4 linked regions of the Homo sapiens genome follow. The protein of the gene in region 4 purifies or fractionates together with the protein of the main gene of each other region. This does not show direct contact. Each region holds a gene or a part of one and is shown on either strand. Other genes may lie near its edges.

What was found.
Region 1: the proteins of SLC17A2 (region 4) and KCNT2 purify together in Homo sapiens (affinity purification with mass spectrometry; 2 studies listed by BioGRID and IntAct, with this or other methods). This does not show direct contact.
Region 2: the proteins of SLC17A2 (region 4) and ST7L purify together in Homo sapiens (affinity purification with mass spectrometry; 2 studies listed by BioGRID and IntAct, with this or other methods). This does not show direct contact.
Region 3: the proteins of SLC17A2 (region 4) and ATP8A1 purify together in Homo sapiens (affinity purification with mass spectrometry; 2 studies listed by BioGRID and IntAct, with this or other methods). This does not show direct contact.

What each region holds. Positions count from the first base shown.
Region 1 is NC_000001.11:196,227,416-196,234,444, reverse strand, and holds part of KCNT2 (potassium channel subfamily T member 2), read left to right. Parts: intron 1-6,109; coding exon 6,110-6,221; 3' UTR 6,222-7,029. UniProt on the Homo sapiens protein: Sodium-activated and chloride-activated potassium channel. Produces rapidly activating outward rectifier K(+) currents. Contributes to regulate neuronal excitability.
Region 2 is NC_000001.11:112,574,113-112,581,141, forward strand, and holds part of ST7L (suppressor of tumorigenicity 7 protein-like), read right to left. Parts: intron 5,265-7,029; exon of another isoform or gene 5,195-5,264; intron 4,306-5,194; coding exon 4,233-4,305; intron 2,977-4,232; coding exon 2,874-2,976; intron 1,122-2,873; coding exon of another isoform or gene 1,014-1,121; exon of another isoform or gene 1,002-1,013; intron 1-1,001.
Region 3 is NC_000004.12:42,458,094-42,465,122, forward strand, and holds part of ATP8A1 (phospholipid-transporting ATPase IA), read right to left. Parts: intron 6,984-7,029; coding exon 6,800-6,983; intron 6,708-6,799; coding exon 6,597-6,707; intron 1-6,596. UniProt on the Homo sapiens protein: Catalytic component of a P4-ATPase flippase complex which catalyzes the hydrolysis of ATP coupled to the transport of aminophospholipids from the outer to the inner leaflet of various membranes and ensures the maintenance of asymmetric distribution of phospholipids.
Region 4 is NC_000006.12:25,920,689-25,927,717, reverse strand, and holds part of SLC17A2 (sodium-dependent phosphate transport protein 3), read left to right. Parts: intron 1-1,838; 5' UTR 1,839-1,921; coding exon 1,922-1,949; intron 1,950-3,811; coding exon 3,812-4,023; intron 4,024-6,305; coding exon 6,306-6,539; intron 6,540-6,624; coding exon 6,625-6,712; intron 6,713-7,029. UniProt on the Homo sapiens protein: Acts as a membrane potential-dependent organic anion transporter, the transport requires a low concentration of chloride ions. Mediates chloride-dependent transport of urate. Can actively transport inorganic phosphate into cells via Na(+) cotransport.

The sequences.
Region 1 (7,029 bases), on a different chromosome or scaffold from region 4:
AGGCAGAAAATGAGACTTGATTATTGATTTGGGAATTGAAAAAGAAGTTTAACACAGCTTTAGGGTTTCAAACTGTGTGATTACAAAAATAAAAAAAAAATGTTGTTTCATCAAAACAAGTCAGAATGGGGAGACAATTTTCCAGGCAGGAAAGAGGGGCTGTTGGGTAGTAAAAAAAAAAGAGATGATATGTGGGTCCAGGTATATATGTATTTTTAATAAATGTTGACTTTCTAATTAATTAAGTTTATTGATATATAATAGTTGTGCATTTTATGAGGTACATGTGATATTTTGATACATGCATAAAATATGTAATGATCAATCAGGGTAATTGAGGTAGCCATTACCCCAAACATTTATAATTTCTTTGTGTTAGGAATATCCCAAATGTTCTTTTCCAGCTATTTTGAAATATACAATGAAGTCTTGTTAAGCATAGTTGCCCTACTGTGCTTTGAAGCACTGGAATTTATTTCTTCTGTGTAACTGTATTTTGGTTACTAATAAACCAGTTTCTCTCCATCTTCCCCTCCTCATCACCCTTCCCAGCCTCTGGTAACATTCTGCCTACTATCTCCATGAGATCAATTATTTTAGCTCACACATTTGAATGAAAACATGATATTTGTTTTTCTGTGGCTTATTTCTCTTAACACTGACTATGTTGTTTTTCTGTGGCTTATTTCATTTAACACTGACTATGTTGCTGCAAATGACAGAATTTCATCTTTTTTATGGATGAATGGTATTCTACTTTGCATATATACCACAAATTTTCTTCATCCATCCATTCAAATATGTTATTTAAAGTATAAAGAGGAAATGTCTAGAAAGCATTTAGATACACAGTATTGGAACTTTGAAGATAAGCTAGTTTTCTGTAGAAAAAATATTTTTTATCTTCCAGCTGAAAAAGGCTAAATAGGGAATGTTTTTTCCAAAAATATAAATACAGAAGAAACAGTAGAATAATTAGTGTTGTACTACTGACGAGTGTTTTGTTTTAGGGCAGAAACAGGAAGCATTTCAAAAACTTATTAGGAAAATAAAACAGCAGGAGTAAATCTGACCCCAAATAAGTGTGAAAAGATTCCTAAAATGCACCTAAGATAGAACTATCAAGTATAATATTGCTTTATTTTGCCATCTGATAATACTGGTTAGAATACAGGAGCATTGGGGAAACAGATGAATAACAATTTAAGCTAGTAGAATTCTTAAGTCACTGTCAAAAATTGTATCTGATGGTGATATTGAATTTATAAAGGACTTCAATTAGAGGAAAACATCTTATTTATGATGCACTTGGATTTTAATTACTCATCCTGGACCCTTCACATAGTATATTATGATAATAAAATAAAGCTGTTCTTTTTTCATGGCATCCACATTTATACATGTCTTTTTTCTTTTAAGTCCATAAGTATAGATAATTTTTATTAAATATCTAATCTACCCATATTAATTCCAGCCTTCTTATACCTTTTTTCAAATAAATATAATTGTGTTAATTATATAGAATTTAAAAAATTATGCTTACCTTATTTGTATTTTATAATAAATTATGTTTCTTAAGCTTAATACAATCATTTCCCATAATTATTTTTGACAGAATGTTCAAAGAAAATGTTGTCACCCTTTTGAGACTAAGAACATGTCATTTTGTCAAATATTTATGTTCTTGATTTCAAATGATGTTTAATCTTTTTACTTATGAATAAAATATGTATGTCACAATGTGGACAGGTAAAGTAGACATATTTTTAGAGAATTTTCTGTCTTTTAGATACTCTTATTTTTTATTAGTTTTAAGCTAAAACATCAACTTGACTGCTATTAAAAAAATAAAAAAGCTTTTCTTACACCATTGCAGTGATCTGTATTTGTGGCATTGAGATAATTAAATTTCAGTGGAACCAGAACAATGATAAATTATCATTTGAAAGATGCCTACCATGACATGTAATATATAAAAACACAGTTTAAGAAATTTGCTTTATTGGACTCATAGGTTTTGTAGTGACAATAATAGGAAAAGGAACTTTTGCTACTGCATCAATGAATGCAGAGAATAATGGATTATACTGTTATCTTTTATGTTTTTCTAAAAATTCACTTTCGGAAGTTTGTTTTAAATGAAGAAGCAACATTAATTTGATGCGAACAATAATAAATCACTAGATGATATGGTATTAAAAAGTGTAATGTGCACTATTAGTTTTCTTCATCAATCCACAATGCTATTGATATTTAAAGTAACTATAAAGCAGTGTGCATAGATGACAAAATCCAGTTAATAGGTCCAAGAACACTAGTCTCAACTTTTATTTGGTCAAAGAAAATAGACTCAGTGTTTTTGATTGCCTTTTCTCATTTTCATTAAGGAGTATATTTTGTGAATTTTTCCCTTCAGTCTTTAAGACAAAAGTGCAAACTTTATTAGCGTTCTCACTTTTTAATTAGTTTTCCTGTTCATTTTATATACTGCCTCTTAAAAATATTATAGAAGTATTAAATACTTCTTTCATTTGGACTTGGAACATGACTTTCTTAGAATGCTGTGTTGCATATATTTATTTTCTTCTCTCCTTTTCAAACCCTTAGTGGCTTCCTACTGCCTTTAAAACACAAATTGAAACTACTTATTCTGAAACTTAAGGTCATTCATTACCTGTTTCCTACCTTTGTTTTTGACTTTACCTACCATGATTTACTAGTTTTCTAAAGTCAAATCATTTCTAAGCACATCAGAAACATCCATCCTCTGTGGTCTCCATTGACAACATTTGGGATCACCTCCTGTTCCTTCCTCCTAAATCTTCTCTGAAGCCTGGAGAGGCAAGTTCAACCCAACCCCACAATAAAGCAGTTCCTAATTCTCTCTGTTGTTCTTTTTCACTTTGTATGATGTTTGGAATTTCTTTTTTTTTCTTCCATTATATCTGCTTCATAAATTTTACTTTAATCTTCTGCCGGACAGGAGTCATGTTTTGTGATTTTGTTTTAATTCTAAGGTGTTAGCACAGTTTCCTACAGGTGCTCAAGAAGCAGTCACTAAAGATACTCAGGCATACCTCAGAGATTTTGCAGGATTGGTTCCAGACTACCACAATAGAGTGAATATTGCAATCAAGCCAGTCACTTGAATTTTTTGGTTTCCCGGTGCATACAAAATTTATGTTTGCATTATACTTTAGTCTACTAAGTGTGCAAAAGCAAAGCATTATGTCTAAAAATTTACTTAATTAAAAAACAGTTTATTGCTAAAAAAAAAATGCTAGCAGTCATCTGAGCCTTCAGGGAGTCATAATCTTTTTTTGCCGGTAGAGAGTCTTGCCTCAATGTTGATGGCTGCTGACAGATTGGGGTAGTGGTTACTGAAGGTTGGAGGGGTGTGGCAATTTCTTAAAATCAGACAACAATGAAGTAGTATGCTGCATTGATTGACTCTTTCTTTCATGCAATATTTATCTGTAGCATGTAATACCCTTTGATAGCATTTTACCCGAAGTGGAACTTCTTTTGAAACTGGAGTCAATCCTTTCAAACCCTGCTGCTACTTTGTCAACTAAGTTTATGTAATAATATAAATTCTTTACAGTCATTTCAACAATGTTCATAGCATCTTCACCAGGAGTAGATTTCATCTCAAGAAACCAATTTATTTGATGATAAATAAGAAGCAACTCCTCATTCATTCAAATTTTGGTCAGAGATTGCAGCAGTTGAGTCACATCTTTGGGCTCCACTTCTAATTCTAGTTATCTTGCTATTTCTACCACAACTGCAGTTACTTCCTCCATTGAAGTCTTGATCCCCTCAAAGTCATCGATAAGGGTTGGAGTCAACTTCTTCCAAACTTCTGTTAATGTTGATATTTCTACCTCATCCCACGAATCATGAACATTGAAATTACTCTTTGATCCATGGGCTGCAGAATAGATGTTGTGTTAGCAAGAATGATACAATACTAATCTCATTGTACATCTCCATCAGAGCTCTTGGGTGACCAGGTGCCTTATCAAGGGGCAGTGATATTTTGAAGTCTTTTTTTTAAGTGTTAAGTCTCAACAATGGGCCTAACATTTTCAGTAAACTATGCTTTAAACAGATTTGCTGCCAGTCAGGCTTTGTTTTTCCATTTCTGGAGCATAGGCAGAGCAGATTTAGCAGAATTCTTAAGTGTCCTAGGATTTCCAGAATGGTAAATGAGTATTGGCTTCAACTGAAAGTCACCGAATGCATTAGCCCCTACCAAGAGAGTCAGCTTGTCACTGAAGCTTTGAAACTAGGCTTTGTCTTCTCCTCTCTAGCTACTTAAGTACTAGATGGCAACTTTTTCCAATAGAAGGCTGTCTTCCAAATTGAAAATCTGTTGTTTAATTTAGCCACCTTCATCAATAATCTTATTAATAGTTTGATTTTTTTGATAACTTGCTGTAGCTTCTGCATTAGCACTATCTACTTCATCTTGCACGTTTATGTTATGGAGGGGACTCATTTCCTTAAGCTTCATGAGCTAACCTCTGCTAGCTTCCTCTTCCATAGCTAACCTCTTCCATAGCTTCTTCACTTCCCTCACCTTTCAGAGAATTGAAAAGAGGTAGAGCATTGCTCTGGATTTGGCTTTGGATTAAGGGAATGTTGTAGCTGGTTTGATCTTTTTTCCAGACCACTCATACTTTTGCCATCTCAGCAATAAGGCTGTTTCCTTTTCTTATCAGTTGTGTATTCACTGGAGTAGCACTTTTAATTTCCTTAGGAACTTTTCCTTTGCATTCACAACTTGGCTAACTGGCACAAAAGACCTAACTTCCAACTTATGTAAGCTTTTGATGTTCCTTCCTCACTAAGCATAATCATTTCTAGCTTTTGATTTAAAGTGAGAGACATGATACTCTTCCTTTCACTTAAACAATTACAAGTCATTTTTGGGTTATTAACTAATCTAACTTTAATGTTTTTGTGTCTTGGGGAATACAGATGGTGGAGGAGAGGGAAAAGAGTCGAGGGAATAGCCAGTTGGTGGAGTGATCAGAACACACATATTTTATTGGTTAAAATTGCCTTCTTATATGGGTGCGGATAGTGGTATCCCAAAACAATTACAATAGGAACATCAAAAATTACTGATCACAGATCACTATAACAGATATAATTACAATGGAAAAAGTTCAAGTTACCAAATCTGACACAGAGACCCTAAGTGAGCACATGCTGGAAAAAATGTCTCCAACGGACTTGCTTGATTCAGGGTTGCCACAAACCTTCCATTTATAAATAATTCAATATTGGCAAAGTGCAATCAAGTCAAAAGCAATAAAAAAGGCATGCCTGTACATCATTTGACAGTCTAAAGTAAGACAACTCTCTGAAAACAAATTCTCACATTAATGAAATGTTTGAGTTTGGCAGATAAACATTTTTCTATTTACTAGCAGAATTAATTAAGAATTATTCTCTATACTTTAGTATTATCACTTACTATACCATAAGCTGAATTTTAGATAAATAATTTTCCTGCTAATTTAAACGTTATGCATTATATTCACTATAACATTTGTTAAACTGTTGATTTTATAGATTCATAAAATATTTAAATTGAAAAGACTATAGAAATTGCTTACATCAATCTCCTAATTTTTTAAGTGATAAAAATAAGACAAAGAACAGTTAAGTAATGGAAGAATGATGGCTAAAATGTAGGTCTCCTTCATAGAAAAATGGCCAAAGTAAGGGATAATAAGTCAACAGCATACTTAATCATAAAACTTTGATGAGACGAAGGTGCTGAAATTGATTATAATTGAAAAATAATGGTGACTGACAGTCAACATGCACAGGGAAAAAGATGAAGAAGAAAAATAATAGTGCTTGATTCATCAGCATTCATCATCATAATCTTCTCAGGTATGAAAATGATAATATTAACCATGCCAAATTGTAAAGGCCAACCAAACAGTGAGTTCTACCACCAATGTTGTATACAGACAGTTTAGATAATCTGAAAACTGAACAAATAAATTAGAAATATGAAGTGTCAGTGTGAATTAATGTTGCCTGTATTTACTATTGCAAAGTTATTTATTTTGTTTTCTTTTATTAGATACTTAATTCGACCAGATCCACTGGCCTACCTTCCAAACAGTGAGCCCAGTCGAAGAAACAGCATCTGCAATGTCACTGGTCAAGATTCTCGGGAGGAAACTCAACTTTGATAAAAATAAAATGAGAAACTTTTTTCCTACAAAGACCTTGCTTGAAACCACAAAAGTTTTGCTGGCACGAAAGAAACTAGATGGAAATATATGTAATTCTCTCATATTTAAAAACGTAATCTCTTCTCTTAGAAGTATAGATCATTTTGAAACTTAATGTACTACTTACTGGTACTCTCCCTATTAATATTTGAAGGACCTCAATGGAATAAATTTGAAAAGCTAAATTAAAATACAAAAATTTAAATCTGACATTTAATTGTTTTATAATAATCCAAACTCTATGAAAGCAATTTTAAAAATTATTAAGGTTTTATGAAGTTGACAAAATCTAACTATATTTGGTGCATCACAATGGACACAGAATGCTGCTGCTCCTCTTAAAAATTAAATGTGTCATATTATATTCTTTAAACTTACTGTTTTACAAAATTGAGCTCATCGTAAATGTCTAGTCTTCTCACATAGAGATTAACCAACAAACTTGTGTGGCTGACTTTTGTGTAAGAATCATAGTTTGCTTTAGAATACAAATCTTTAAGTCATTTTAACTTTTTTTTCTGCCTTACGATATAAAAATATTTATCTTAGAATTTGAGATGTTCATAGCATGTTTTATTACATTGAAGAAACTAAAACATAAATGAAAAGAAACACTAGGTTCCTGCACTTTTTGGTAACTTTATGTCTAGCAAATATTTTATGCCAAGAAAAGCATACTATAAAGCAAATATCTATTATTCTCCTAAACGAATGCCTAGCATAGAGAAAATACTTAATACACATTTGTTGACTTAAATTTAATTCA
Region 2 (7,029 bases), on a different chromosome or scaffold from region 4:
CACCATGCTGCCCTGGGTGGTCTTGAACTCTTGAGCTTAGGCGATCCACCCACCTCGGCCTCCCAAAGTGCTGGGATTACAGGTGTGAGCCACTGCGCCCGGACTTTTTTTTTTTTTTTAATGAGACAGAGTCTCACTCTGTCACCCAGGCTGCGGTGTAATGGCACTATCTCGGCTCACTGCAACCTCTGCCTCCTGAGTTCAAGCAATTCTCCTGCCTCAGCCTCTCGAATAGCTGAAGAGTCTGTCTTAAAAAGAAAAAAAAAGCCAGACGCACTGGCTCACGCCTGTAATCCCAGCACTTTGGGAGGCCAAGGCGGGCGGATCACAAGGTCAGGAGATCGAGACCATCCTGGCTAACACTGTGAAACCTCGTCTCTACTAAAAATACAAAAAATTAGCCAGGCGTGGTGGCGGGCGCCTGCAGTCTCAGCTACTTGGGAGGCTGAGGCAGGAGAATGGCATAAACCCGGGAGGCAGAGCTTGCAGTGAGCCTAGATCACGCCACTGCACTCCAGCCTGGGCGACAGAACAAGACTCCGTCTCAAAAAAAAAAGAAAAAAAATCCATAAATAAAAAGTACAGATAAAAAACATAAAGGGAGGAAATAAACATAATTAATAAATAAGAATACAAATGAATAAGAATAGTGGTTACCTTTAGGTAGGAAGGGAGGTTGTAATGGGAAAGGGCAGTCAGGTAGGCGTCTGTGGGTTGATAATGTTCTGTTTCTTGATCTCGATAGTTTTCAAGCATTTACTTTGTAATAAATCATTAAGATGCACATTTTTGTCTCATACACTTTGCTGCATGTGTAGTAGAACTCATAATAAAAAGTTTACAAGGCTGGGCGCGGTGGCTTATGCCTGTAATCCCAGCACTTTGGGAGGCTGAGGCGGGCGGATCACAAGGTCAGGAGATCGAGACCATACTAGCTAACATGGTGAAACCTCGTCTCTACTAAAAATACAAAATAATTAGCTGGGCGTGGTGGCGCGCACCTGTAGTCCCAGCTACTTGGGAGGCTGAGGCAGAAGAATCGCTTGAACTCTGGAGGCGGAGGTTGCAGTGAGCCAAGATTCTGCCACTGTACTCCAGCTTGGGCGAAAGCAAAACTCTGTCTAAAGAAAAATAAAAGTTTACAGTACTCACTCCTTATCCTCAGTACATATGTTTTAAGACTCCCAGTGGATATCTGAAACCACAAATAGTACCAAACCCTACGTACACCATGTTTTTTCCTCTAAATATATGCCCATGATAGAATTTAATTTATAATTTAGGCACAGTAAGAGACTAATAACAATAACTAATGATAAAATAGAACAGTTATAACAATATGTCAATCTTGCATTTGGGGTCACTATTAAGTAAGATAAAGGTTACCTGAACACAAGCACTATGATACCATGACAGTCGATCTGATAACCGAGTTGGCTACTAAGTGACTAATGGGCGGGTAGCATAGACAGTGTTGGATATGCTGGACAAGGGGATGAGTCATGTACTAGCCTGGATGGAGGGGGATGGTGTAAGATTTCATCAAGCTACTCAGAACGGCATGCAACTTAAAACTTATGAATTGTTTATTTCTGGAATTTTCCATGTAATATTTTCAGACAGAGGCTGACTGTGGTAACTGAAACCATGGAATGCAAAACCATAGATATGGGTGAACCGCTGTCTTTAAATTTATGGAACCAGTGTCACTTAATGAGAGAATGGTATAAATATTTGTTGACTCTCTTTCTTGGATTTAAGTACTTTTCTTAACCATATCTTTACTTACTCTAACAGGCTTACAACATCCTTTTCTTGGAAATTATCTTTTAGCAATTAATCTCTTTACTGTAGCTCTTTAGCTTCCAAGCTCTATTAACACCCTTTCACTGGAATCAATAGCTATAATTACTTTCCGTAGTAAGGGCATCTATTCTTGAATTGTCTATACTTCCTAACATGGGGCATTGTTTGTAGAACCCCAATTTTTTTTTTGAGATGGGGTTTCACTCTGTCACCCAAGGCTTCAGTGCAGTGGCGTGATTGCAGCTCACTACAGTCTCGACCTCCTGGACTCAAGCAATCTTCTCCCCTTGGTCTCCCAAGTAGCTGAGACAACAGGAAGCATCACCACACTCAGATAATTTTTATATTTTTTGCAGAGATGAGGTCTCACCACATTGCCCAGCCGCTAGTCCCAAACTCCTGGGCTCAAGTAATCCTCCCACCTCGGCCTCCCAAAGTGTTGAGATTATAGGCATGAGCCACTGTGCCCAGCCCAAACCCCAAAATTTAATTTTGTGTTGTAACACACAAAGATTAAGCAATAATTTGTATAACTGCAAGGTGTACAATATAAAGACAAAGCAAGTATATAGACTCATTGGGGACGAAATAAGCATCAGCCAGTTTTTCTGGGAATTTCCACATCTGCCTCCTATCATTGATTATTTTAATCTGTTTGTCTTCAGTTTTTGTCTACCCAACCCTAGTTCAAAACCCAGGCATCTGTCTAGAAAAAGCTTTCACAGTAACAGGAAATTTGATTTAGTGATAAGAAATATGAATAATCTTTTATTAAGACCAACCCATTATTTATTTTCTACAACTATACTAAAAGAACAGCTAAGTGAACACAGTTCAAATTATATTTTGATAGTAATTACAAAGCATATAGCTAACTATTGCTCCTATCTACCTTTCTAAATGCCTAAATGTTTCAACGTCCCCTGTAAGGTGAATAATAAGCATCAAAATATAGCAGATTAAAACAATTCTGCACCAAATTATGGTGACCCAGACTCTGGTCTACGAACTGTCATCAATTTGATAAACTTAAATAAAGGTAGTATTTTTATCATAAAATTTCTCACTTTTGGAACATGAGGATTAAATTCCACAGCTCTATGAATTGCTTCCACGGCATTAATTTCTGCTGTGCTTAATCCTCTTCTGGAGGCTGTTTCTGGAGAGAATCTACAAGAAAACCACAAAATGAAAAAATAAATATGCTAAAAAAAAGAAAAAAAGTATGAATTTAGATAATAATACAGCCCCTTGAATCAAAAGAAGTTTCTGGAGATGGCCAAAAACAAAGCCAGAGGACTAACAAAAAAAAAAAAAAAATTAAAGCTGGCCGGGCGCAGTGGCTCATGCTTGTAATCCCAGCACTTTGGGAGGCTGAGATAGGTGGATCACCTGAGCTCAGGAGTTAGAGACCAGCCTGACCAACATGGAGAAACCCCGTCTCTACTACAAATACAAAATTAGCTGGGTGTGGTGGTGTGTGCCTGTAGTCCCAGGCACACATGGGAGGCTGAGGCAGGAGAATCACTTGTACCCGGGAGGCAGAGGTTGCAGTGAGCCAAGATTGTGCCATTGCACTCCAGCCTGGGCAACAAGAGTGAAACTCTGTCTCAAAAAAAAAAAAAAAAAAAAAAAAAGTATAGTCTTGTGGGTTCAACATAGAAAAAACAAAGCAGCATAAGGAATGAAAGTCTTCAAACTTAGGTAAAGAAGGCCTTCAGGAGAAGTCCACTGAAGGTACACTTTAGGAAAGGTAATAAAGTAATAAATGCAACACAGTGATATCCAGAGAATCTCATGAAATAGCAGTACATTCTTATCAAATTCTTATTTGAGAGGACACAAATGGAAAATTCCATTCTAATTCATATCAAAGCATAAAAATCTAAGGTGAAAGAAAATGGCCACTATTTGGTTGGTTTCTGAGTATCTTACCTGCACAATAAAGAGAATTCACTAAGAGTAGCCAAAAATACAAGAAAAGCAGAAGAACTCAGAATTATACTCTAAGAAGAGATAACATAAGCCTATTTCCCTACTACACACTTTATCATCATCATCATAGTTACTATTTGGTGTGTGTACTTTCTTTCTAGATATTGCTTTAGGCACTTACCACACATAATCCTCCTACAACCCTCCTGCAATATTAGTCTCATTTTACAGATGAAGGAGAGACTCAAAATGATTAACTTGCCTACAGTCCTATAGCTAAAATGTGGTAGAGTTTGAATTTGAGCTCAGGTTAGCTCTAAAAACTTTGCTCTTTCCACTACACACAGCAAGAAGCCTAAAAGCCCAAGAAGATCCAGGGCTATTCAGAAGGAAGTAGAGTGGAAAACAGCATTGTTTAAAGTCAGTAGAGGACAAGCATAATACTGAGTTTAGCAGTCTTTCCAAATCATTGTAGTTTTTATAACACGTACTTTTCTGAAACAGTCCTTGTCTTCAACAGTGCTGCTGTGTAACAGATTGCTGCTGACTTTGGAAGGCTTATATCTGTAACGATAATTTTCAATTTAGGTAGGAATTACAAAAAAGGTATTGAGACAATTTTTTAATAAGAATAATTCACGGCCAGGCATGGTGGCTCATGCCTATAATCCCAGCACTTAGGGAGGCTGAGGCGGGTGGATCATGAGGTCAGGAGTTCAAGACCGGCCTGACCAAAATGGAGAAACCCCGTCTCTATTAAAAATACAAAAATTTGCCAGGCATGGTGGCGCATGCCTGTAATCCCAGCTACTCAGGAGGCTGAGGCAGGAGAATCGCTTGAACCTAGGAGGCGGAGGTTGCAGTGAGCCAAGATTGCGCCATTGCGCTCCAGCCTGGGCAACAAGAGTGAAACTCCGTCTCCAAAAAAAACAAAACAAAACAAAACAAAAAAAAGAATAATTCACAATGCAATGCAAATTCAATAGTTATATAGGAAAAACCTGGACGTGATGTTGAAAAATCTATAATATAGTAGGAAAAACCCGTATATGAAGTTGAAAAAGCTGAATCTGAATCTTTATCTTACTATTTACCAGCTAAGCATCTTTGAGCTAGTAGCAACTTGTTTGACCTCAGTTTTCACCTCTCAAAATAATGATATTTTCTGACCGAGATGAAATTATGTCTATGAAAGCCGTCTGCACAACGGTGAAATGCGTTCAACCAATGTCTACAATAACCTGCTTATGGACGGGCGTGGTGGCTCATGCCTGTAATCCCAGCACTTTGGGAGGCTGAGGTGGGTGGATCACGAGGTCAGGAGTTCGAGACCAACCTGGCCAACATAGTGAAACCCTGTCTCTACTAAAAATACAAAAAATTAGCCGGGTGTGATGGCAGGTGCCTGTAATCCCAGCTACTCAGGAGGCTGAGGCAGGAGAATCACTTGAACCTGGAAGGCCGAGGTTGCAGTGAGCCGAGATTGTGCCAGTGCACTCCAACCTGGGTGACAGTACGAGACTCTGTAAAAAAAAAAAAAAAAAAAACAATAAAAAAAAAACCTGCTTATAGTAAGTTCAGGGGAAAAGGCATGGTATAATTAGAACTATGTAAAACCTTCACCTATTCATAGAGAAAAACTAATATTAGAAAAAAATTAAAATATTTAACAGTAGTTAAATCCAGGTTGATTCAACCGAGGGTGATATTTTTCTTCTTCCTAGATTTATTTTTCTTAAATTATTATTTTTTAGAAAATAAAAATTTCATCTGGAACTGTAGGTAAATTAATTATATCAATCATTCTCAAAAGAATATCCAAAATAATGCTATCAGAAGATGTTTCTGATCCCAGAATCATACTAGCAAATGGAGAACTAAGGAAGTAAATTTGCTTTCAACTTCCTCCAGATTCTGGAATGGTAAAAACTGGGACTCATGAAAATAACTGAAAATACAGAAGCATATCAACTTAGATATGCTTTATTAGTTTTAGTTTTATTTTATTTTTAATGAATCAGGTCCTATTCCAGTTTGTTACATTCAGTCCCTAAGCTTGCTCATCATAAGTATTATAAGCAGGCCATGTATCCAGTAAGTTACATATGGAAAGAATTTCTCACAAATTTCTCCATGAGCCTACACTATTCTGAAGCATTGCTTAAGAATTCCAGATGTTTAAAAGAAGTAAACTTCTCTTTCCAAGTATAACACATTTCAAACTTCCCAAGTCATGGGGATTCCCAAGCAAATGGGTAGGAACCTATAACAGGACAAATGTGAATAAACGACCTTTTTCTTTGTTTTTTTTGTGAGATAGGGTCTCACTCTGTCACCCAGGCTGGAATACAGTGGTGCAATCTTGGTTCACTGCAACCTCTACCTCCCAGGCTCAAGAGATCCTCACACCTCAGCTTCCCGAGCAGCTGGGACTACAGGCGCATGCCACCACACCCAGCTAAATTTTTAAAATATTTTTTTTAGAAATGGGTTTTCACCATGTTGCTCAAGCTGGTCTTCAACTTCTGAGCTCAAGCAATCCACCCGCTTCAGCTTCCCAAAGGGTTGGAATTACAGGCATGAGCCACTGTGTCCAGCCTTCAATGTGACTTACATGTGTTCTCGTATAGTGAAAGATACCACCAGAAGCATAGTAACCCCAAATTTTCAGCTTGAGGTTAAAAGCTGATGCCTCTCTCAGGATAAGAAGGGAGGCTTTATGTCTTTAAAATTCTCCAAACTTCATGTGTGGTAAACTGGTATTGTTATAACATAATAATAAAAATAACTGCCAGGTGCGGTGGCTCACGCCTGTAATCCCAGCACTTTGGGAGGCCGAGCCAGGCAGATCATGAGGTCAGGAGATCGAGACCATCCTGGCCAACATGGTGAAACCTCATCTCTACTAAAAAAAATACAAAAAAATTAGCCAGACATGGTGGCAGGCACCTGTAGACCCAGCTACTCGGGAGGCTGAGGCAGGAGAATGGCGTGAACCTGGGAAGCGGAGCTTGCAGTGAGCCGAGATTGCACCACTGCACTCCCGCCCAGGCGACAGAGTGAGACTCTGTCTCCAATAAAAAAATAAAAATAACCAATATATATTGAATTGTTACCATGGAAAGACTAATGAACTAAGAAATCAAACACCTGGATTTGCCTTTTACTGGCTGGGAGACCTTACTCCAATACTTTAACCTTCTTAAATTCCAGTTCCCTTATTCAGTTAATTGGAGACAGTAAAAATACTTGTCCCACAACATCATAAGACTATTATAACGATCATAT
Region 3 (7,029 bases), on a different chromosome or scaffold from region 4:
AGAAAGAGAAGGTCTTTAACAGTGAAGTAGCCTACCAGCAGGCCGATTTCAAGTTAGGCTGAGATTGTAGTTAATATTGGGAACATATCCCGTGCAAAATAAAACAACATCTAAATTATCCCAAACACATAAAAGTACCTCCTCTAATTCAACCAGAGCCACAGATTCAGAAAGAAAACACCGGTCCCTCTGGGGAGGTGTCTAGTTTATTTAAATTCACAGGGAATTCAACTCCCAGCACCACTTGCTGGGACAGTATCACCTTATTGACTTTTATCAAAGCTTCTGGAAATTAGAAACACAACTTGGTTTTGAGATCTTCCCAGAAAACTTGGATGTGACCAATCATTTGAAAGGAAAGGTCTTATTTTATGAGGAAGGAGTCAGACATATCAGAGAAATAAAAAAAAATCTCTCTTTAAAAGGAGCCAATAATTTAAATGAACACCTAGAGCTGCTCCTGGGCAGCTCCTGTAAGAAAGAGCTTTATACCACCATCTGCCAAATCTGTATTCGTCTGGCTGTAATTTACAGCAATGGAATATCTAGATAGTGACTTTCCTAAGCAATATAGCAAGGAGAAAAGCAGTGTTTGTAGTTTTAAATCTATAAAACACATAGTGTTCAAGACTATTCCTTTATTAGCATAGAAATTTCAGACCTGCTTCTCCTGGCATTATTTTCTAAATTCCACCTCCCAGTAGAGGCGTGGCAGCTAAAGCTTCACATTCATTTTCCTGATGGAGCATTTCTGCATATTAAACAGCAGCTTACAAACAGTCAATGAGTCCTCTGCTCCCACGCCTGATCAGCACAAAAAACTGAAAGGAGAGATTCGAGACTGGCAGTTGTCCTCACTAGAGACATTCAATGATGTGTTTTCTGTCTATTCATTCACAGTATTGACATGAGCCATTAACATCTGCAGAACTTGTTTTAGCTGGCAAAAGTTGGGTATCTGGGAATTGATTTAAAAGGTCATTACCAAGACAGTTGAATCATATTCAAAATACATTTCCACAAACTCTTGAGAAAAATAAAAATGAGATTTCCAGTAAAGTTTAGAACTCACTTCCTTTTCACTGTGTAAAGAATTTGATCAGTGTCAAATATCTCATGAACAGGTTTTAAAATCAAAGGCAAGTGAAGTTTAGGGTTAATCAACCACAAATCACATAATTCTGGGTTTGAAACAGGACAGGGCATGAAGATTGTTTTCATTTGATTTTAATGTTTTTATTTTCTCATTAGTACATAAATTTTGTCTACTTTATTGCTGTCAATTTAGATTTAAAAAGCGACAAGTTGGACATTCTTATTTTATAAAATTAACTTTTTATAAGCAGATTTATTGCTGGCAGTGGCTTTAAATTCCTGGTATCTTGATAAATCTATGTAAATAAACTGTATAAATTGTTATTTGCTTGAATGTCAGTGTTCTGGAATGAGAAGAACATATAAATAGAAAAGCTAGATATATAGAAGGGATTGAGAATAGAAAAATAATTACTTTAGAAAAGAACTACACATTTATATAAACAACAAAGAATATTTTTTTGAATCTTATAAACTATTTTAGAAGTGCATTTTGCTTCAAAACACACACTATTCCAGACCAAATCTAGCAGTAATGAACGAGTAAGTTCATTTACGTATCTTGTTTATATTTCCACATATTAGGTTATTTTTTTAATTTTTATTTATTTATTTTTTTGAGACAGAGTCTCGCTCTGTCACCCAGGCTGGAGTGCAATGGCGCGTGGTCTCTGCTCACTGCAAGCTCCACCTCCCGGGTTCACGCCATTCTCCTGCCTCAGCCTCCCAAGTAGCTGGGACTACAGGCGCCTGCCACCACGCCTGGCTAATTTTTTGTATTTTTAGTAGAGACAGAGTTTCACCATGTTAGCCAGGATGGTCTCGATCTCCTGTCCTCGTGATCCACCCCCCTCGGCCTCCCAAAGTGCTAGGATTACAGGCGTGAGCCACTGCGCCTGGCCTGTATTAGGTTATTTTATCTAATAGGTTGTAACCTTTTTAGTGACCATTACACCAAACTGCCTGTACACTTCAAAACTAAGTTTCAATTTTACTAGCCTGACTCATAATAAGAACTATGCTCAGTCAACATTTAACAAGGAGATAAGCATTCTGACAGAGGCACAAAGAACAGGTGAAGCAAATATACACCAGCCCCCAACGAAAGTGTCAACGTACTGACTTTGTTTATACTGTTACTTCTCAGAGTAAAGGATAGAATATGATTTCCATATAGCAAATGGATGGATCTTTTTTTTTTTTTTTTTTTTTTTTCTGAGATGGAGTCTTGCTTTGTTGCCCAGGCTGGAGTGCAGTGGCACAGTCTTGGCTCACTGCAACCTCTGCCTCCCTGGTTCAAATGAGTCTCCTGCCTCAGCCTCCTAAGTAGCTGGGATTACAGGCAACTGCCACCATGCCCAGCTAATTTTTTGTATTTTTAGTAGGGACGGGGTTTCACCATGTTGGCCAGGTTGGTCTCGAACTCCCGACCTTGTGATCTGCCCGCCTCAGCCTCCCAAAGTGCTGGGATTACAGGCGTGAGCCAACGCACCCAGCCTGGCTGTATCTTTTTTGACAGACGTGTAGAAACAGTCAACAGATTAAATGGTAAAGTGGCAGAAACAAACATCTATCTGTAAGGGAACCCTCAGCAGATTTATGAGACCATGGTGGGTCCTTGACAGGAGTGGGAGAATGAGGTTTTCTTAACAATGGGAAGGCCATTGTCATGATCTGCAGAGCTCCAACAGGGACATGAAACTGATAACACCTAGAATTACTACACATATAGCTTCTGACAATAAGAAGGCAACTTTTTAAAAAAAGGCAAATAACATATTTATCATGCCTTGATTAACCATTCAGTTCACTTATTTATCTACCACTGCTGTGCTGCCCAGCATGGTAGAGACTGGCCACACGTGCTCTTGAACACTTAAATGTGATTAGTCCAAATTGAGACGTGGTATAAATGTAAAATATACTCCAGATTTTGAAAACTTAGGATGAAGGATGTAAAATGTCTCATTAATAATTTTTGACAGTGATTACAGGTGACAATGATAATCTTTTGAATACATTGAGCTAGATAAAATATACTGAGATCAATTTTTTCTTTCTTTTTTTTTTTTTTGCTTTTTGCTAATGTGGCTTGCATTGTATTTCTGTTGGCAAGTGATATGGTTTGGCTGTGTCCCCAGCCAAATCTCATCTTGAATTCCCATGTGTTGTGGGAGGGACTGGTGGGAGGTAATTGAGTCATGGGGCCAAGTCTTTCCAATGCTGTTCTTGTGATAGTGAATAAGTCTCAAGAGATTTGATGGTTTTGAAAAGGGGAGTTCCCCTGCACAAGTTCTCTTGCTTTGCCTGCTGCCACCCATGTAAGACGTGACTTGTTCCTCCTTGCCTTCCATCATGATTGTGAGGCATCCCCAGCCATGTGGAACTGTAAGTCCATTAAACCTCTTTCTTTTGTAAATTGCCCAGTTTTGGGTATGTCTTCATCAGCAGCGTGAGAACAGACTAATACAATAAATTGGTACCAGTAGAGTGGGGTGCTGCTGAAAAGATACCCAAAAACATGGAGGTGACTTTGGAACTGGGTAACAGGCAGAGGTTGGAAGAGTTTGGAGAGCTCATAAAAAGACAAGAAAACGTGCGAAAGTTTGGAACTCCCTAGAGACTTGTTGAATGGCTTTGACCAAAATGCTGATAATGCTATGGACAATAAGATCCAGGCTGAGGTGGTTTCAGATGGAGATGAAGAACTTGCTGGTAACTGGAGCAAAGGCGACTCTTGGTATGTTTTAGCAAAGAGACTGGCAGCATTTTGCCCCTTCCCTAGAGATCTGTGGAACTTTGAACTTGAGAGAGATGATTTAGAGTATCTGGTGGAAGAAGTTTCTAAGCAGCAAAGCATTCAAGAGGTGACTTGGGTGCTGTTAAAGGCATTCAGTTTTGTAAGGGAAGCAGAGCATAAAAGTTCAAAAAATTTGCAGCCTGACAATGCAATAGAAAAGAAAAATCTCATTTTCTGAGGAGAAATGGAAGCAGGCTGCAGAAATTCGCCTAAGTAATGAGAAGCCAAATGTTAATCCTCAAGACAACGGGGAAAATGTCTCCAGGGTATGTCAGAGTTTTCATGGCAGCCCCTTCCATCACAGGCCCAGAGGCCTACAAGGAAAAAGTGGTTTTCTGGGCCAGGCCCAGGGTACACTCGTGCTGTGTGCAGCCAAGAGACTTGGTGCTCTGCATCCCAGTTGCTCCAGACATGGCTGAAAGGGGCCAACATAGAGTTCGGGCAGTGGCTTCACAGGGTGCAAGCCCCAAGCCTTGGCAGCTTCCATGTGGTGTTGAGCCTGAGAGTGCACAAAAGTCAAGAACTGGGGTTTGGGAACCTCTGCCTAGATTTCTGAAGATGTATGGAAATGCCTGGATGCCCAGGCATAAGTTTGCTGCAGGGGCAGGGCTCTCATGGCGAACCACTGTTAGGGCAGTGGAGAAGGAAAATGTGAGGTCAGAGCCCCCACACAGAGTTCCCCCTGGGGCACCACCTAGTGGAGCTGTGAGAAGAGGGCCACTGTCCTCCAGACCTCAGAATGGTAGATCCACTGACTGCATTGTGCACCTGATGCCAGCCTGTGAAGGCAGCTGGGAGGGAGGCTGTATCCTGTAAAGCCACGGGGCAGAGCGGCCCAAGACCATGGGACCCTACCTCTTGCATGCTTGACCTGGATGTGAGACGTGGAGTCAAAGGAGATCATTTTGGAGCTTTAAGGTTTTACTGCCCTGCTGGATTTCGGACTTGCCTGGGGCCTGTGGTCCCTTTATTTTGGCCAGTTTCTCTCACTTGGAGTAGCTGTATTTACCCATTGCTTGTACATCCATTGGATCTAGGAAGTAACTAACTTGCTTTTGATTTTACAGGCTCATAGGCGGAAGGGACTTGCCTTGTCTCAGATGAGACTTTGGACTGTGGACTTCTGAACTAATGCTGAAATGAGTTAAGACTTTAGGGTATTGTTGGGAAGGAATGATTGGTTTGGAAATGTGAAGACATGAGATTTGGAAGGGGCCAGGGGCAGAATGATATGGTTTGGCTCAAATCTCATCTTGAATTCCCATGTGTTGTGGGAGGGACCCAGTGGGAGGTAATTGAATCATGGGGGCAAGTCTTTCCTGTGATGTTCTCGTGATAGTGAATAACCATCTTGAGGTCTGATGGTTTTATAAAGAGGAGTTCCCCTGCACAAGCTCTCTTTGCCCACTGCCATCCATGTAAGATGCGACTCGCTCCTCCTTGCCTTCCTCCATGATTGTGAGGCCTCCCCAGCCATGTGGAACTGTAAGTCCATTAAACCTCTTCCTTTTGTAAATTGCCCAGCCTTGGGTATGTCTTTATCCACAGTGTGAGAACAGTAATACAGCAAGTTCCTGGAGGACAGGAACCATGCTTGATTTACTTTGTAGTTGTTGGACTAAGCCTGGTGTCTGGGCTCAGTAGGTGCTACAAAATTGTTTACAGAACAAAATGCATCCTTTTAAAAGTGGTATTCCTGACTCAGGTTTTCATTTTTAAAATGATGTTATGTTTGACACATAAAACGGATTATAGAAATCCCTTGCTATCCAGACAGAAACTAAATATTCTGATAATTTTTAGACAAATTTTTCATCATCTGAACTCTTGCTACTCACCAAACACGGAAACAAAAACAGATCTGGATAGAGAGGGATGCTTGTATGTAACAAAGATCTAAGTTTTGAAACATAATAGGAACAACAAGGCAACAATACCAGCAAAGCTACCTGCATATTCTTCCTGATTGCACTTCTTTGTCTCCTCCCAGAATTAGAGGTGCTAGCTTCAGTTGATGTTTCTCATTCCCTCACCTTTTTTAAAAAATAGCTTTTCTACATGTGTGTTATCCCTCCATGGTGTATTGCTTTCTTTTGCATGTTTTTGAGCTTTATTAAAAATGCAGTCAAGTTTATAGACTTTTATACATTATTAATAATGTATTTTTTACATTAAATACATTATTATCTCATTAGCATCTCTAATTCAACACTTCTTATCAAAGCAACATAACATTTTTAGCTAGAATTTAAACATAATTCTCCATGGCTGACAAACTTTTTTTTTTTTTTTTTTGGGGTGGAGTCTCACTCTGTTGCCCAGGCTGGAGGACAGTGGCACAATCTCAGCTCACCACAACCTCTGCCTCCTGGGTTCAAGTGATTCTCCTGCCTTAGCCTCCTAGTAGCTGGAATTACAGGTGCCTGCTACCACGCCTGGCTAATTTTTGTATTTTTAGTAGAGACGAGGTTTCACCATGTTGGCTAAGCTGGTCTCGAACTCCCGACCTCAAGTGATCCGCCTATCTCGGCCTCCCAGAGTGCTGGGATTACAGGCCACCTTTTTGTTTTAATACATTTAGAATTTATAAAGAGTTGGCAAATAAAATATTAATTAAAACCATGAGAAAACGTCTCCATAAAGAAAATTTCTTTAAATATGTATGCAAATGACAAGGATTTAAAATTTAACCTGCTATTACCTCGATAATATAGAGCACTATATTCTTGTAGAAGCAGTATAAGATGCACTTGGAGACTCTGTTATAGTTCCAGGCACCATGAATCATCAGTAAATTCTTCAAATATTTGAACTAAAACAAGAGTGGGAAAAAATTAGTATTTTCCTTTTCAAAGCATCAGTTGACTGAGAGGAATGATGTGTTTTGCAGAAATGACGCTTTACCTGAGCTATGGAGTAGTCAGAGGAATTAGCTGCCTGCAGGCCTTCATTGCCACTGATACCAACACCAACGTGCGCTGTCTGTATCATGCTGACATCATTTGCTCCATCACCGATTGCAAGCGTTACGACTTTGACTTGTTTCTTAACCATCTCAACAACTTCAGATTTTTGAAGAGGAGAAACCCTGAAATTGAAACACATTATCAATTACTGTTTTCTGAAAAAAGGAA
Region 4 (7,029 bases):
AATCTCCAAACACCCAAAATTCAAAATTTAGATGGAGAGATACTATTCCCAGAATTCTAGAGATATTTGGAAAGCAGAAAACTATACTTGCCATGCTGATGAAGTCCAATTATTGCTCTTTTAAATACATTTAGCTACTTCTGAATATAAAATGAGTATCTACTAATTATTTACAAAATCACTTGGTAAATATAGAAAGTCACAAAGAATGAAGTGATCATCCTGTTTTGTAACCCAGAAATAGTCATTACTGGCACTTGTGTGAATCAGTTTCTATTCCTGTATGTGGATGTGCACAGCGTATCCTGCTTTGTACACTAGAGTACTAGCATTTTTCTAATGTAATTCAATATTGTCGAAAACATTTTAAAATAGCTTCCATCACAATAATCTATCAAATTGACTTGCCAGACTCTCATTATTAGGTTAATTTATCTCTAACATTATGCAGTCATGAGTAATACTACAAAGGATATTTTTGGACACAATTTTTCATCTATGCCTTTCTTTATAATCCTTCATCCTAAGGTCACAGATTATGAATATCTTTAAAGTACGGACAAGTCTTTTAAATTTTGTGTGCAAAAACAGTGCAAAGCCTTGAATGATAAAATAGAGGTTTGATATATGTGTTTTTTTGTTTGTTTGTTTTGAGACGGATTCCTGCTCTGTCCCCCAAGCTGTAGTGCAGTGGCACGATCTTGGCTCACTGCAACCTTTGCCTCTTGGGTTCAAGCAATTATCCTGCCTCAGCCTCCTTAGTAGCAGGGTCTACAGGCATGTGCCACCACACCCGGCTGTTTTTGTATTTTTAGTAGAGATGGGGTTTCACCATGTTGGCCAGGATGATCTCGAACACCTGACCTCAAGTGATCCACCCACCTCAGTCTCCCAAAGTGCTGGGATTACAGGTGTGAGCCACTGCACCCGGCCGATACATGTGTTTTTAAAGTCACAGAAATTTCAGATGTCTTGAAGGATTTTAAGCAATTTAAAAAATAAAGTCATAGAAGCTTCAATTTAGGAATGAATGGAAAATTGATGATATTCTTAGGATATGGATTTTTCCTAAAAGAAACAAATGTATGCATCCCCAAAGATAATTTGATTAGTATACAAATATTAAATTAAACATGTCCATATTTAGAGCCATGAATTCTCTTTGCCTGTCACAATAGCTGGATTTATTCACAATTGTAGTAATTAGTCCCTGTTCATTATAATTTTCTAGGTGATATGAAGACTTTGTCAGTCCAAGCAAGTGTCCACATTGTGTGTAGCAAACATGAGAATAAACATTTTAAACTTTTAAATGTAATACATATTAGTGTTATGTAATGTCATCCTTCATGTTCGAAGGCACATGGAACATTGTTCTGGTGGTACAGAGGGGAGAGAAACACCATCAGAATGAAAGGAAAGACCGCTCTGGAACCTTCCTCCTTAGCTCTTGAGCTTAGTTTAATTGTCCTGTCTTATGGTCTGCTACAAGCAATACCACTCTTCACCTTCGCATGCTTCTCTGTGGTTTGATAAAGTACATGCAATTTTTCATTTAATTCTTCCAGCTGCACTAAGAAAGGAGCCTTATCTTTATTGAACAGATGAGGAAATGAATGATTAGAGAATTTAAATGACTAGCTCTAGGTCACACAGCTGGAACTTACAGCCAGATTTCCTTTTAACAATCCTGTAACCAAAAGCATACCAGTAGTGCCCCATAAAATGTAAGTTATAGAGCTGTGTTGGGTCAAAACTTTTACTGATGCTAAGAGGAGGCAACATTAACAAGGGGAAATTATTTGTGTATTATGTTTTGGATTATGTTCTCTCCATAGATAAAAGACTGTCGTAGTAAAAGAGATTCAGGGCACAGGGAAACTCCACCACAAAGCGTGGTACCATTTCCCACAGAAGCTAAATGGACGGGAAGCCTGCCACCAGGAAAGGTAAAGCCACTGCTCTTGTTTGCAGGCTATGTTAATAAGCTGAAGCTTATTCCGACACATTTACACATCTCTGCATCACACTGACCCTTCGTAAAGATACTCCCAGTGTAACATTGGAGCCAGCTCCAGCCCCTGATCCTGTTGCTTTTTCCTTAGCCCCATGAAATCATCTGTGAGAAATTAAGCCAAATAAGCAATAAATCCTGGGATCTAGGGAGTGGAATAAGTTTTGGGAAAGTCTTTTTTTTTTTTTTTTTTGACTGAGTCTTGCTCTGTCTCACAGGCTGGAGTGCAGTGGTGCGATCTCGGCTCACTGCAACCTCTGCCTCCCGGGTTCAAGTGATTCTCCTGCCTCAGCCTCCCGAGTAGCTTGGACTACAGGCACACACCACCATGCCCAGATGAATTTTTGTATTTTTAGTAGAGATGGAGTTTCGCCGTGTTAGCCAGGATGGTCTCGATCTCCTGACCTCGTGATCCACCGGCCTCGGCCTCCCAAAGTGCTGGGATTACAGGCATGGGCCACCACGCCTGGCCCGGGAAAGTCATTTTAAACCAACCTATGTATGAATCCCTACTATAATATTCTCACCAAGCGGCTGGCTCTTTCTCCTGAGCTTGGAAACCTCCAGTAAAATGGAAATAATTATTTCCCAGACCACCACTCTTATCTGTGAGCTTTTTTGGCCATTAAAAATTATTTCTTCCATTATATTTTTATCTGTGTCTTCACAGGTTTTCTCTTTCTTTCACTTTAGTGCTTTTCTTCAAATAAGCAGGAAAAATCCAATCTATCATGCACATGGGAACCCTTTCAATATTGGTCTGTGGTTGTTCCATTTTATGGGGATGCTTTTAAAGAAAAAATTTGTCCTTTCAATATATTGAATATCTTCCAGCACCACATCACCTGCAAGCTTTGTAAAAATAGTTCTACATATTAATTTTTTTTTTTTTTTTGAGATTGAGTCTCATTCTGTCACCCAGGCTGGAGTACAGTGACATGATCTTGGCTCATTGCAACCTCTGCCTCCTGGGTTCAAGTGATTCTCCTGACTCAGCCTCCCGAGTAGCTGGGATTACAGGCATGCATCACCATGCCTGGGTAATTTTTGTATTTTTAGTAGAGATGGGGTTTCACCATGTTGACCAGGCTGGTCTCAAACTCCTGACCTCAAGTGATCCACCTGCCTTAGCCTCCCAAAATGCTGGGACTACAGGCGTGAGCCACTGCACCCCACGTAGTTTTTTTTTTTTTTTAAGTTGAACATATGTGAAGGCAGGACCTAGTGACACATAGCAATAACATTTCCAAGTAGACATTACACTAGGGAATTAGTCGAAGTGCTCATTTAAAGTACCATCTCTCAAATGTATTAAAAGAGAATCCTTGGATGTGCAATACCTTAATTCAAAGGCAGCTCGTTATGTATAAACTCTCAAGCTTTGTGATAAACAAATGTGCATAACAGATGGGACTATTCACTTACAGCCCAGGGAATTTTATTGACGCTGAGAAGGTTATGTGACTGGCTCTGCCACTGTCATCCCCATTCACTTCATTTTGGAGCAATATGACATAAATGCCTTACATGTGGGTTTTCTCTATTTATCATGTGTTTCCTATCCCCTTGAAAGATGGCCATATTTGCTTTACTTGGTTATAAGATCCCATATTCGCTGTCTTGAAGCCAACCAAATAATTTGACAAAGTGGGTTTGTAGTGCTGGCTATTTTGGTGAAAAAAAGACAATGAGACTTCATGTGTCATCCAAAGTTCTATCAGATCGAGCTGTGAGAGAAAGGAAAAGAAAGGGGTCTCAGTCAGGATGCTCACTACATACATCTGTGTTGTTGTCTAGGTCCAGATTTCTGTTCATTACGCTATGGGCTGGCTCTTATCATGCACTTCTCAAACTTCACCATGATAACGCAGCGTGTGAGTCTGAGCATTGCGATCATCGCCATGGTGAACACCACTCAGCAGCAAGGTCTATCTAATGCCTCCACTGAGGGGCCTGTTGCAGATGCCTTCAATAACTCCAGCATATCCATCAAGGAATTTGATACAAAGGTAAGTATGATGGAAAATAGGGCTCTTTGTTGAGAGAAAAAACTTTGAAAGGAAGGCATAGATCTTGATTCTGTGGAGTATGGAAGTATACATTTCCAATGACAAATTAAAACTGACTGGAACTATTTTTCTTTGAGACATTGCTTACTTCAATAATAAAAATAAGATTTCATTGAGGTTATTATGATTATAAGGTGGGGGAACTGTAGAGTTAAATGTGAAAAATTTAAAAATGGAACAGTTTATGTGATGTCTTCAATGAAAAACTAGGTATTACCTGGGCACATTCTTATAGGTTACTCAATCCTATTCAGTTCTCTGCCTGTTTTATTGTTTCTGAGCAATTTTATATCCCTGTAAATTCTATATAACCAATAGAAATGCAAACGATTCTTGTCCATAGCTTTGCAAATAAATTTTGCCAAGAGAAAAATCAGTTAAAACTTTTCTCCACTCACCTCCCAGTTGAATTAGCCAATTTTGCTGTTTGTTTGTTTGTTTGTTTTTTGAGATAGAGTCTTCCTCTGTCATTCAGGCTGGAGTGCAGTGGCATGATCTCAGCTCACTGCAGCCTCCGCCTCCCGGGTTCAAGAGATTTTCCTGTCTCGGCCTCCCAAGTAGCTGGGAGTAAGGGGGCATGCCACCGCGGCTGGCTAATTTTTGTATTTTTAGTAGAGACAGGGTTTCACTAGGCTGGTCTCGAACTCCTGACCTCAGGTGATCCACCCGCCTCGGCCTCCCAAAGTGTTGGGATTACAGGTGTGAGCCACTGTGCCAGGCTCTGCTGTATATTTAAAGTCTATTTCAGCATTGCTTCCTGCTTGTGTTATGCGTGATTCTTTGAGTTTTCCTTTGAACCAGTTATAACATCTTACTTACTTCCTCCATTAATCAATGAGTTAAATAAAATCTTTGTTGTATGTTTATTTTACATTTATATGAAAACCATGAATTTACCCAATTAAAAAAATTATCCTTTAAATTATCTTGTACTGTACATTTCCCATGTCATCCCTATAATTCATGATTAATGATTTTATTACATTGGACCTAGCTTATTTACAATGAGTACATAAATTTATTGTCTCCAGTCTTTCCTCCATTATCCCGTCTACATATCCACACTGAGTAGATTCACTACTCAGGAATCTTGGACACCTTCAAGTTGCCAAACATGCAGTGTTCACTGGACATGCTGTGTTCCTTCAGAATTTGGGCCTGCTTCTCAGCACACTCACATCTGCTATCAATGACCCATGGAAAGTTTTTGCCCTGAGCAAGCCAGAGTCCCTGTTAGTTTCTTCCAAATGCTACAAGTTCACTTTTGCTATTTTTTCCGATGAGATAAAATTTTCCTTTTTGACTTTCTACAAATCATAGTCATTTTTCAAGGGATAGTTCAAGTATTGCTTCCTTTCTGGGACCTTCCCAAATTATTATTTTCTCCTCTCAAAGTCTCTGTTTTATTTATGTTCATCCTCAAATCTTGATTCTCACATGAATCATATACCTTGTATTATTTATAGTTTTTTTGAGTGGGTAAAATATTTCATATTTTATATTCTTTGGCTCTCTACTTTATAGCATGATGCCAGATATTTAGGGGCCTTATTGCATTTATTTTTTATTTTATTTTAAAATCTATTTTATTTTTTATTTATTTATTTTAAAATCTATTTATTTTTAGGTAAATATTCAGGTAATATAATTTATGTAATTATTTAGGAATTTTAGGTAGTTATTTTAAAATAATTCAAATTATTTATTGAGTTATATCAGAAGAATGTGATCTTATTCATTTGTAATATGTGTTTTAGGAACTCAGTTCAGCCAGGGCAGACCATGATTCCCAAACTTGACTTTTCTTTTTAATTAGGCACTGATTTTGGTTAAGAGTTCAGTAAAGTTTTGTGTGTGTGTTTTAAAAAATTCTTTGATATAAGAGTCAAGATGTTACTCAACTTTTACTAGAAGCAAAATAGAGGAAGTGCTTTCACAGATGAAATATCTCTCAATGTTTTCTTCCATTTACTTCTTCCTATTATTCATCTATATAATCATTTTCTTTACCTCTTTTCTTCATTTCTTCTGTTTTTCTCTCCTTCTACTAAGACAAGCAAATTAGGGGTATAATTGGTTATTTGGGAAGGTAGGAAGAATATAGAGAGAAACAAAAATCAATATTTTATACTAGGGTCTCACTAACCTCAAGCAACTCTGACTGTAAAGTAGATTTTCATAATAGGACTTCTTGACAAAGAGTTTTCCTATTTTTCCCCCAGGCCTCTGTGTATCAATGGAGCCCAGAAACTCAGGGTATCATCTTTAGCTCCATCAACTATGGGATAATACTGACTCTGATCCCAAGTGGATATTTAGCAGGGATATTTGGAGCAAAAAAAATGCTTGGTGCTGGTTTGCTGATCTCTTCCCTTCTCACCCTCTTTACACCACTGGCTGCTGACTTCGGAGTGATTTTGGTCATCATGGTTCGGACAGTCCAGGGCATGGCCCAGGTATCCAGATACTTTCTCATTCTTGGTGGGATCCAGATTTCTGAATTCTACAAAATATCAAAGGTCTTAATGATTTTCATTTCAGGGAATGGCATGGACAGGTCAGTTTACTATTTGGGCAAAGTGGGCTCCTCCACTTGAACGAAGCAAGCTCACCACCATTGCAGGATCAGGTAAGTGTGCACAGATGGGTCATAGCTTTGTCATCTGTTCCATCCCACTGTGTCTTATCTTCTATGAATCAAATGGTTTGGGGAAGAGAGAGAAAAAGTACTGCTGAAAAATTCAACAATATAAGACACTTGCATCACAAATAGGAAAGATGCATCTGTGCAGTAAAGACATTGAAGCTTAGAAGTAGAAAAAACCATTGTGAGCTAGGTTTCAGCTCAGAAAAGCCTTAGTAGTCAGAAAAGCCTTAGTAGTCAGAAAAGCCTTGTCGGAAAAAGTTTAAACCTTTAAGAATTGCACACATGGAAAAAGATCAAGT